Linked DNA regions of Homo sapiens: region 1 is linked to region 2. The links come from fine-mapping of genetic effects on gene expression. A gene starts in region 2. The other region holds a variant in brackets. All regions are shown on one strand. Distances are between the middles of the regions.

Region 1 (5,386 bases), 31 kb after region 2:
TCCTGCCTCAGCTTCCCAAGTAGATGGGACTACATGTGCATGCCACCATGCCTGGCTAATTTTTGTATTTTTAGTAGAGACGTTTCATCATGTTGGCCAGGCTGTGCTCAAACTCCTGCCCTCAAGTGATCCGCCTGCCTTGGCCTCCCAAAGTGCTGGCATTACAGGCATGAGCCACCATGCCCGATCTCAGTCATCTTTTTATCCTCCACACCTGGCAAGTTCTAGACACACTGTGGTTCCATACAAGTTTGTTGAATAAACAGGAGACAGAGAGTGAGAACTCTGGAAGTATAGAAGATTCCAGAAATTGTGCATATTTCCCACAGACTGTGGCCCAATTCCTCAGTCCTGCCAGAGTTTCTCTATCTCAACTCAAACCTTATGTGTGGGCCCAGGCGCAGTGGCTCACACCTGTAATCCCAACACTTTAGGAGGCTGAGGTGGGCAGATCACTTGAGGCCAGGAGTTTGAGACCAGCCTGGCCAACATGGTGAAACCCCGTCTCTACTAAAAATACAAAAATTAGCCAGACATGATGTTGTGCACCTGTAGTCCCAGCTACTCAGGTGGCTGAGGCACAAGCATTGCTTGAACCCAGGAGGTGGAGGTTGCAGTGAGTCACTATTATGCCACTGTACTCTAGCCTGGGCAATAAAGCAAGACTGTCTCAAAAGAAAAAAAAAACCCTTAAGTGTGGGCCTTGTTACAGAATTAATGTGTATATGGACAATATGTACATGGGTGTATGTTAAGAGCATGAGTCATCCACAAGATTTCAGCAAAGTCCATTTGGAAAGCTCAATGCTTTGGGCTTCCACTTGCTTTGCTGCCTCTGTCCTCAGAAGGAGGCTTCATCCTTCCATGTAACCAGCAAATCCTTTATGCAGAGATGTAAACAACACACTCCTCTCCTTGGCTATGACACCTTGAAAGGGTCCTCTTGGTGGCCCCTGGTGCTCATTTCAGAGTAGTTCAAATTAAGGTGATCAGCTTTCATGCCAATCACTCTACAAATCACTCCTATTACGACCAATTTTTCTAAATGCTTTATTGAATTATTACTTAAAGAAATGTGCACATAGAAGAGGTCAACACAGTACTTTTCTTACAAACTGAACATACTGGCCAGACGCAGTGGCTCATGCCTGTCATCCCAGCATTTTGGGAGGCCGAGATGAGCAGATTGCTTGAGCCCAGGAGCTTGAGACCAGCCTGGGCAACATAGTGAGACACTCCTCTCTACAAAAAATAAATAAATAAAAAATTAGGCAACAGTGGTGGCACATGCCTGTAGTCCCAGCTACTCGGGAGGGCTGAGGTGGGAGGACTGCTGGAGCCCAGGAGGCAGAGGCTGCAGTGAGCCATGATGGTGCCACTGTGCTCCAGCCTGGGTGACAGAGAAAGATCCTGCCTCAAAACAACAACAACAACAACAACAAAAAACTGAACATCTCCATATTGCTGACACCCAATTCAAGAAACAAAATATTACAGACCCTTCCAGGATATTCCTGGGGTCTCTTCCATCTCTACTAACCCCTGACTACAAACAGCCTCCACCTATTTCACCTGACATTGTACTTTATGAAAGCAGCAGTTCTCAGATGGGGCTATTTTGCCCCCTGGGGACATTAGGCAATATCTGGAGACACTGGGGGTTGTGTCTACTTGGGGGGAGTTGTGTTACTGCATCCAGTGAGTGCAGGGATCCAGGGATGACGCTCAACATCCTAAAATGCACAGGGAACCCCCACACATAGAACAGAGAAATTGCTGAGCCAAAATGTCAGCAGTGTCACAGCTGACACCCTGACATACACACTATCACACAGTATCTGCTCTTTCGTGCTCAGGATCTTTTTCATTCTAATCATCTCATAGGAAACAGAAATGTCATTTAGAGGTAGGTAGAGTCCAAAACAAAGAAGATCCAGAGTTTTTTTTTTTTTTTTTAATCAGCCTGGTGCCTTTAGAGCTAGGATTTAGTTTCCATTCTTTCTGTCTCATTTTCAAGTGATTTTTTTCTTCAAATGGCATCTACTGGGCTCAAGAACCGGAGATCCCCACAAAGCTGAGATTCACATGGGAATTTTGTACACACCTACACAGGTATACACTGCCATTTACATGCAGACATCCACCCACAGATACACACATCCGGAGACCAAGACAGAACACAAACTCCACCATAAAAGCACGGTTCCCCGAACAGGAGAAACGCACCATTCACTCCAGGGAGGTACCTATTTGTTTAATTCAGCCTCTGATAGTCAGGCTGTTGCCAAGCCCAGCTCTGAAAGTCTTCCCCTCTAGGAAAGAGAGATGGACTTTTTCTTTACTCAAGAATATAGATCTAAAAAAAACAAACACTTCTGCATCTCAAAGCAGGCTCTACCTCGTGAGCTACACATATTGATCAGCATTTTATTGTCAATTTTCTTTTACTTGAATTGGAGAAAAATATAACTTAATTATGTTCTTACTGACAGTTTGGAATCAGTTACACTAAATCCAATTCTCTGGGTTCTCATGATTAATGTGTTTAATTTGGGGGACAACAAAGCAAAAGCATTGGTCGTGTTTTAATATAATTAGTACAGGATATATCTAAGGGGTTGCAGTATCACTGTAGCAAGAAGCTCATTCTGCAGTAAAAGGGGGGTTCTGCCACTAGGATTGAGTTAGGGTGGTTCATGGCTGCACCGTTTAATCAATGTCTCTTCAAGAGTCCATGGAATGTGGAATGGGAAAGACTGAAGTAGTGCAAGTCTTGGCTAAGCTTCTATTAAGGGGTGTTAGGAGCTGATAAAATAACCTGGTCTTTATAGACATCCCACACTGTAGTTCTCTAAGCTACAGATTCTCAGATTTTTCTATTTTATAAACGAGTAAAAATATTTTTTTAATTTGAGAACAAACATAAGGTTGCTATCTTTTTTTCTTTTGGGTAAGAAGGAACTTTTTTAAACTACCAGTTTCACACACACACACACACACACACACACACACACA[G/C]AGAGAGAGAAATTCCACCATGATTGGTCAGAATAGGTGAGGTTTTGCTGCAATAACAAACAACTCCTAAATCTTGGTAACTTCAAACATCAGAAGTTGTTTTTCTCACTCATGCTACATCTGCAGGGAGGTGTGGGGTGCTCTGTTTCCCATCAAACTTGCCCTAAGACTAAGGTTAATGGGGGTTGCAATACCTCGAGTATCACCAAGCAGGGAACAGAGGGAGAAGAATGCTAGAGAGTCTTGTACTAAGAATTAAATGCTCCAGGCTAGAAGTCTAACATTGCACCTCTGCCCCCAGCCTCTTGGCCAGTACTAGCCACATCCCCTCCCCCACCACAGGGCAATGCATGAAGACAGGAGAATTGGATACATTACAAATTTCTACCCCATGGCATTTCATAAAAGAGAAAAAATGCAAATACAAAAATGTTTTAATAGAATAGAATATATACATTTTTAGAATAAAGAACAATCCTCCAAAAACGACAGCTGGTGGTCTTTCAACAATAGGCACATTTCTGTGACATTTTCTCTGTTTTTCCATTTTATCCTTGACCTATGAACATTTTATACAGATGGTCCAAAGAACACCATTTGGGGACCACTGCTCTAATCAGATGATGAAAACGGCCCCAAGAACAGAGCACAGTCTCTTTAGCAAAGACCCAGCAGGGCCAGGATGACCATGTTCTCACCATCAATGTGCAGACATCCACCTGCAGCATCCTCACATCCCAACATCAAACAGTGGCTCTTTATAGCTTGATTCTAATGCCCTTTGATCTTCATAATCATTGTAAAGATCTCTGGCCCCAAGATCTAACATCGCCACTCTAGCTACATCATGCAACTGTTCACCTCTCCTGCCTCCTCATCCCTCTAAACTTCTCTTCACAACCTCATGTTTCCTTCTTGCTTTACCTTCCTGCTCAGCCTGGACCTTACAGTCACCTTCTTCTTGTAATGTGCTCCTAAACTTGTTCTTCCCTTTCTTCAACCACACCCACCTGGAAAATCTCCATACCCCATTGATGACTTGCCTCGCAACTGCCCAAGGGCTGCTGAATGATACTGGAAGGAATCACAACATGGATCTGGTAGTTCCACTAAATAATCTCACCATCCAACTCTAGGGTAGACTTCACTTCTGTTCAGCAATATTTTTAAGTATCACAAATAAATTCCAAACCATATTTGCTATAACAATTGACTTTAAACCTCTTCCATATCTCAAAGCCCCCAACACCCATCCCTAGGGGTTTCAGAGCCCAGAGTTGAGTTCTCTCAACTCACTTCCATCTCACCCCTAGATCACTGTATCTTGACCCTCTTCCTCTGCCTTTCCCATGTTATAAGGAGAAGCATCCTTCTCCTTTTCCAAGCTACCTTCTCCACTTGTGCCTCATTTGAGACCTGCCTTTATCATCCGTTCCCTTGGAACTCCCATGACTCACCACCTTCACTTGTCATTTCACTCATAAATATTTTGCACCGTATATGTGCCAGGTGTTTAACATATAATCATGCTTAAGTCTCCACATGCTAACAAGAAAAACCTTGATTATCCCTGCTATGCCCTCAAGTCATTACCCTCCCCGCTCCTTTCCTGTGTTCCTAAACTTTGTTGATCTTCATCAATCCCTCTGATGCAGATGGCTATGAAGTTTGCATCCTCTTAGGTTGGTGCAAAAGTAACTGCCGATTTTGCCATTAAAAGTAATGGCAAAAACAGCAATTATTTTTGTACTAGCCTAGTATCTTTTCTCCTTCTACCAAACTTTGTCCCTGAGACATCTCATCACCTATAACTACCTCCTCCATGCAGTTGATTCCCAGATCTGTATTATTCTACTGAAAGTCCATTCCCCAATTTTCTCGGCTAGAATAACAGAAGCCCAGTTAGAATTCATGCTACCAGTTTCCCACCACCACCACCACCACCACCACCGTCGCCCTGCCATTGTTAGCAAAACCATCTCTTGAGTGGAGCTCAAAGATTTGTAATCTCCCACTCCCCAGAAAGATAACTTCAGACTCAGCCTAGAAGTAAAGATCCTCCAGATATGGCCTCAACTACCCTCCAACCCATGTCCCCAGTGCATCCAGTTGATGCCCCCTTCAGTGGAGCTAAAATGGAGTGAGTGGTTATCTTTTCACATACTCCTGGTGTTCTTCCACAAATACAATTTTCACCTCTTGAATATTTTCAAGGATTCTCCATGCTACACACAGTGAAATCCAAACTCCCCATCAGGACCCCAGTCTTCCCAAACCCTCTTTGCAGTTTTCTGCCTCCATGCTTTTCCTTGGGTCATCCTCTTCTCTAATATAACCTTGTGTATTATTCTAGGTTCTCCAGAGAAAGAGC
Region 2 (5,386 bases):
ACACAGAGGTCCAGATACATTCCGTTTTGAGAATGTCAATGGATACACCAAAAACAAGATGTTTTAATTAAAACATCTCTAACTTGAAAAATAACTATTTTGGTGTTTTTTTTAAAAAAACTGCGAATTGCAGCAAATGCCCAAATAGTTTGGGATAAACACCCTAAGGAAAAAATATACATTCAAGTTGCATAAGTCACTTTGAGCTATTCTTTGATGATATTTCATTTATATCTAAAAGAACCAAAGGTTTAGCTGGCTTTTCCGGAAAACCAGAACCAAATAATATATGGTTAGAATGAAAATCATCTCAAGCAATTTGGAAATGAAGTACCACATGTCCTATGCTGTCTCTTCCATGCACTTGACCAAATAGCCCAAATAGCCTATAACAAATTATTTGAGATTTACTGGAAAAATTCCATAAGATTTAAATGAGATGACTACTAATAAGCCATCTGCCTTTGACTCTATATCAATTTAAAACGGGTTAGGAAAGTGCTTTGAAAATCAAGTATGGTCATCAGGGAATCAGTTACCTAAGTCTTCTTAACGCTGCTTAGTGAATCCCTGTATTAATCCTGCTATAATAAATACATTCTAACCACTAAACTGGAGGGGAAAAAGGGAGAACAAAGAGGCATGTAAAGTACACTTATTTTTTCTAGTAGGAAAAAGCCAATTAAAACTATAACCTATTATTTTTATTGGAATCAGTCTTATAGGAGGGCAAAGTTCCTACTGCCGCTACCTGTTCTCAATATTTTTCTTATTTCTTCCTAAACTTCTAGAACAGTGCTGTCCAATAAATATATATGTAAGCCACATATGTAATTTTAAATATACTAGTAGCCCCATTAAAAGAAAAAGGTGAAATTAATTTTAAATAAACTTAACTCAGTATGTCCCAAATAGTAACATTTTAACATATATGTAATCAATATAAAATATTATCGAGCAGATATTTTACACTGTTCTTCCTACTCCAACGACAAAATCCAGTGTATTTAACACAATACATCTCAGTTAGGACTAGCCAGCACTTCAAGTGCTCAACAGTTACAGGTGGCTAGCGCCTACCGAACTGGACATGGCAGTTTCAGTGCATTTAATTTCTATTCCACTTAGTGCTACTTACAACTTCACCCTCTCCCTTTACTTTTATATTAAGATCTCAGTAAGTAACCAACTACAGACAGGTTCAAGCCCTACTTTACCTCTAATTACTCTTACAGCAATGCTATGAATCATGATTTAAAATTTAAAAAAAAAAACTGCTGTTAAATTATTAGTCAAGCGCCCAGGGCAATGGACAGTAAAGAAATAATGTAGGCCACGGGCCGAGATGAAAACTGTCCTTTTTATTTAAAGCTATAACAATCATCTGAAGCCAGCCCTGCAAAATGACAGCCATTGAAAAAGGCATGCTAGTTCTTTTGCCTTTTTCTGTACTTGGTCGCCTGTGTCCCTAAACAGACCTCTTCTCGGCAGGGTTTGCTCAGCAAGTCACTTGATGAGTCTTGCAGTCTACAGAGACAGGTGGGGACTGGTGGGGATGGCGGGGTGAGAGGGGAGGAGGAGGGTGAGCGGTCCAGGTGAGGAGGGGGGCAGTTGAAGGTGAAAGCAGACACCGAGACGGTGATAAGGCCGCAGTCTCTTCCTAGATCAGGACCACGCGACACCTGACTGCGCCCTGGCCACGAGCACGATCCGACCCGTCCGCCGCAGGGACCCGGACCGCGAAAATGTCCACAGGCTTCGACGCCACATAGTAAAAAAAAGTACACATATAACATTTACAGGGGCTCAAACTGCCGCTGCCTCCTCTCCGGAGCGGTCCGGCCTGCCGGCCGCGGTTCCCTCTCGATGCTTCAGGGAACCAGGACAGAAAGGTCCTTCCGCTAGCTGTCAGGTGCGTAACAATCGCTAGGCGTCCGCCCCGCCCTCCCTACCGCAGGAGCCGCAGCATCAGCAGGCGCCCGCGAACCGCGTCTGCCGGGTGCCAGGCTGAAGACCGCATCCTCCACCCCTTCCTTCCGGAGCAGCCCCAGGGCACGCGAGGAGGATGCTGGCGCGGGGCGCAGGGCACGGGGCGCAGGACCCGGCTCACCTGGGCGTAAGCAGGTCAGGGTGATGTGGCGGGCTGAGGCCAGGGATGTGGACAGCTTGACGGGCGGCGAGGCCGCTGGCGCTTATACCGACCTGGCTCCTGTAACGCGTGCGGGAAGTTTCATCATGCCTGCGAGGACCAACCAGCGCGCACAGGGGCGGGGCCGCGGGGTGTCCGGGGCGGAGCAGGACTAAGTGGGGCGGCGGAAGGGCGCAAGGAGGAGCTCTTTTGTTTCCAGCGCCTTGCGTCTCAGTGCGCCTGTTTAAGGATAGCCTCAGAGCTCCGCCCAGGCTACCTGCTGTTCTGACAATTAGGGAGGCTTCTGAACTTGGTTTGTTCTTCGGGAAATCATCACCGTTTTTTTGTTGCACTGCCGTCTGATTTATTATGCAGTGCAGAGAAAAGCTTGTCCTAAGAAACTGATGCGTGAGGCCTAAAATGTCCTTATAAGATCTATTAATAAATCGGGGCCAGGAGCGGTGGCTCACGCCTGTAATCCCAACACTTTGGGAAGCCAAGGCAAGAGGATCACTTGAAACCAGGAGTTCAAGACCAGCCTGGGAAACACAGCGAGATCACATCTCTATAAAAATTGGTGGCACACCATGGTAGTCCCAGCAACTCAGGAGGCTGAGGCAGAAGGATAGTTTGAGCCCAGGCGTTTGAGGCTGAGGTGAGCTCAACTCCAGCCTGGGCGACAAAGGGAGACCCCCATCTCTAAAACAATAAAATCTAAATCTAATTGATACATGAAGCCAAAATACATCAGTGGTCCTTAAACATTTTAAGTACAAAGATTCCTTTTAGAATCTCAAAAAGGATTTTGTCAACTTGCCTCCACAAGATGATTATGTGCTTTTAAGTATCTCTTTGATGAAGAAAAGACATCACGATTTTTAAAAAGTATCATAACACTCTTAAATCGTATTTTACTAATTACATCAGCACCGAAATAAATTGAGAAATAGTAAAATTATATGTGCACGACCTACTAAGATCAGACTACAGTCAATGCTTGGAGAGCATGCAGGTTTGATATCCCCATACAACGCATTCCTGACTAAATCAAAAACGTCAACAATTTAAAATCCCTAAGAACAGAAGATGGAGTAGTCGCTTAGTAGTTACAGGCAAGAGCAAAGATGAGAGATGACTTGTTCTAAGGTTCATTGTTGCTGGAAAGTTTTCAGTATCAAACAGACTTTGCTGTATCCTAATTGACGTACTTTAAACCTGAGAGCAATGTGGGAAAGTAGGTCTTCTATCTACATTTTACAAATGAAAAAATAAGACTCAGAAAAGTTGAGGGATTTATCCAAACACAGCTTCACAACAGTAGAGAACTGAGTCATAATCTGTGTAAACCCAGAGCCCATTTCCCGTAGCATCTTGCCTATGTAGTGAAAGACAGGTTCCCCTGCTTGGTGTGTTACCTAGTGTGCTTCCTTGTGCTGCGTATCTCCTGCTTGTCCGTCCAGAGCTCTACACTTCTCCACCTCACTTTCTATCCTGGCTCCCTTGCCCTCCTCTTTCAGGGAGAGTGTGCAAAGGCAGACATTTCAAGGAGATGCAAAAGGTGAAATTAAAATTGCTAATGAAGTTTTGGCACCATTGTCATTGATAACATCTTATCAGGAGACAGGGTTTTGAGATCAACCGGTCTGACCAAAGTTTATTAGGTGGGAATTTTCTCTTCCTAATAAGCCTGGGAGTGCTATGGGAGACTGGAGTTTATTTCACCTCTGCAGTCTCGACCATAAGAGACAGGTACGCCCCGGGGGGCCAGTTTAGAGACCTACCCCTAGGTGCGCATTCTCTTTCTCAGGGACGTTCCATGCTGAGAAAAGGAATTCAGCGATATTTCTCCCATTTGCTTTTGAAAGAAGAGAAATATGGTTCTGTTCTGCCTGGCTCACCGGCGGTCAGAGTTTAAGGTTATCTCTCTTATTCCCTGAACAATTGCTGTTATCCTGTTCTTTTTTCAGGGTGCCCACATTTCATATTGCTCAAACACACATGCTGTATAATTTGTGTACTTAACGCAATTATTACAGGTCCTGAGACGATATACATCCTTCTCGGCTGACAGGATTAAGAGATTAAAGTAATGACAGGCATAGGAAATCACAAGGGTATTGATTAGGGAAGTGATAAGTTTAGTCCATGAAATCTTTACAATTTATGTTTAGAGATTGCAGTGAAGGCAGGCATAAGAAATTACAAAAGTATTAATTTGGGGAACTAATAAATGTCCATAAAATCTTCATAATCCACGTTCTTCTGTCATGGCTTCAGCTGGTCCCTCCGTTTGGGGTCCCTGACTTCCCGCAACACAGCACAGTGCCTGGCACAAAAGAGTTGCTCAATAAATACATCAGGATGAATAGATAAATACACGGATAGGCACTTTGAACTACAGATGAGCTTAAATACTTTGTGTTTTTCTTAGTCAAACATGTGCAATTAAGCATGTGATAAATGTTATGATGACCACACGTGTGTCTTGCCTGATGTTCTTTGCAATCACTAAATGAAGTCAATTGTGCCTGTTTTGACAGTTCTATTTTCAACCTAATGATCTGTTTATTTTAACTTCTGGCTGTTGGCTTTGTTTGGGTTTGTTAGCCTGACGAAGTGGTAGATATTGGTATTTGCTCTTTTGTTTAAATGTCACGAACTTTAAAAATGCCTTTGCTTTTGGGAAGAAACCCTAGTTAGGACACCCTAGCGGTCAGGATGATTTGGGTTCTGGTGCAGTAACGACAATCCCCAAATCTCAGTGGCTCCATGCAGTGAGGTATTTGTTTGTTTTTGAGACAGGGTCTCACTCTGTCACCCAGACTAGAGTGCAGTGGTGCAATCTCAGCTCACTGCAACCTCTGCCTCCCAGACTCAAGTGATTCTCCTGCCTCCTGAGTAGCTGGGATTACAGGCCCATGCCACCACTGTCTGGCTAATTTTTGTACTTAGTAGAGACAGGATTTCACCATGTTAGCCAGGCTGGTCTTGAACTCCTGACCTCAAATGATCCACCCGCCTTGGCCTCCCAAAGTTCTGGGATGACAGGCATGAGCCACCATGCCTGGCCACAGTGAGGCTTATTCTTGGTCACGTTGCATGTCTGGGCTGTGTTAGGGCATTGTGTGGTGGTCTGTTCATTGTGTTCACTCAGGGATCCAGGCTGACAAAAGCCCCATCTCTGCATGTGTCCTTGATCACCCTTCAGGGGAAACGGAATGTGGTGGATCATAGAGCCTCTTAACACTTCCACCTGGA

What was found.
Region 1: its variant is fine-mapped to the expression of ASNS in regulatory T cells (Bossini-Castillo 2019, PIP 0.95).

Annotation. Positions count from the first base shown.
Region 1 is chr7:97,901,304-97,906,689 of GRCh38, forward strand. The region is part of intron 7 of CZ1P-ASNS (CZ1P-ASNS readthrough); the gene reads right to left. It also overlaps a transcript of ASNS not described here. Among named protein-coding and RNA genes, the nearest start is that of ASNS, 32 kb to the left of the region's middle. The variant G/C (reference allele first, on the strand shown) is at 3,016.
Region 2 is chr7:97,870,241-97,875,626 of GRCh38, forward strand. ASNS (asparagine synthetase (glutamine-hydrolyzing)) reads right to left here and starts at 2,168. Exons shown (of 13, transcript NM_001673.5): 1 at 2,111-2,168. The region is part of intron 7 of CZ1P-ASNS (CZ1P-ASNS readthrough); the gene reads right to left. RefSeq lists silencers at 1,890-1,999, 2,310-2,399 and an enhancer at 2,049-2,764.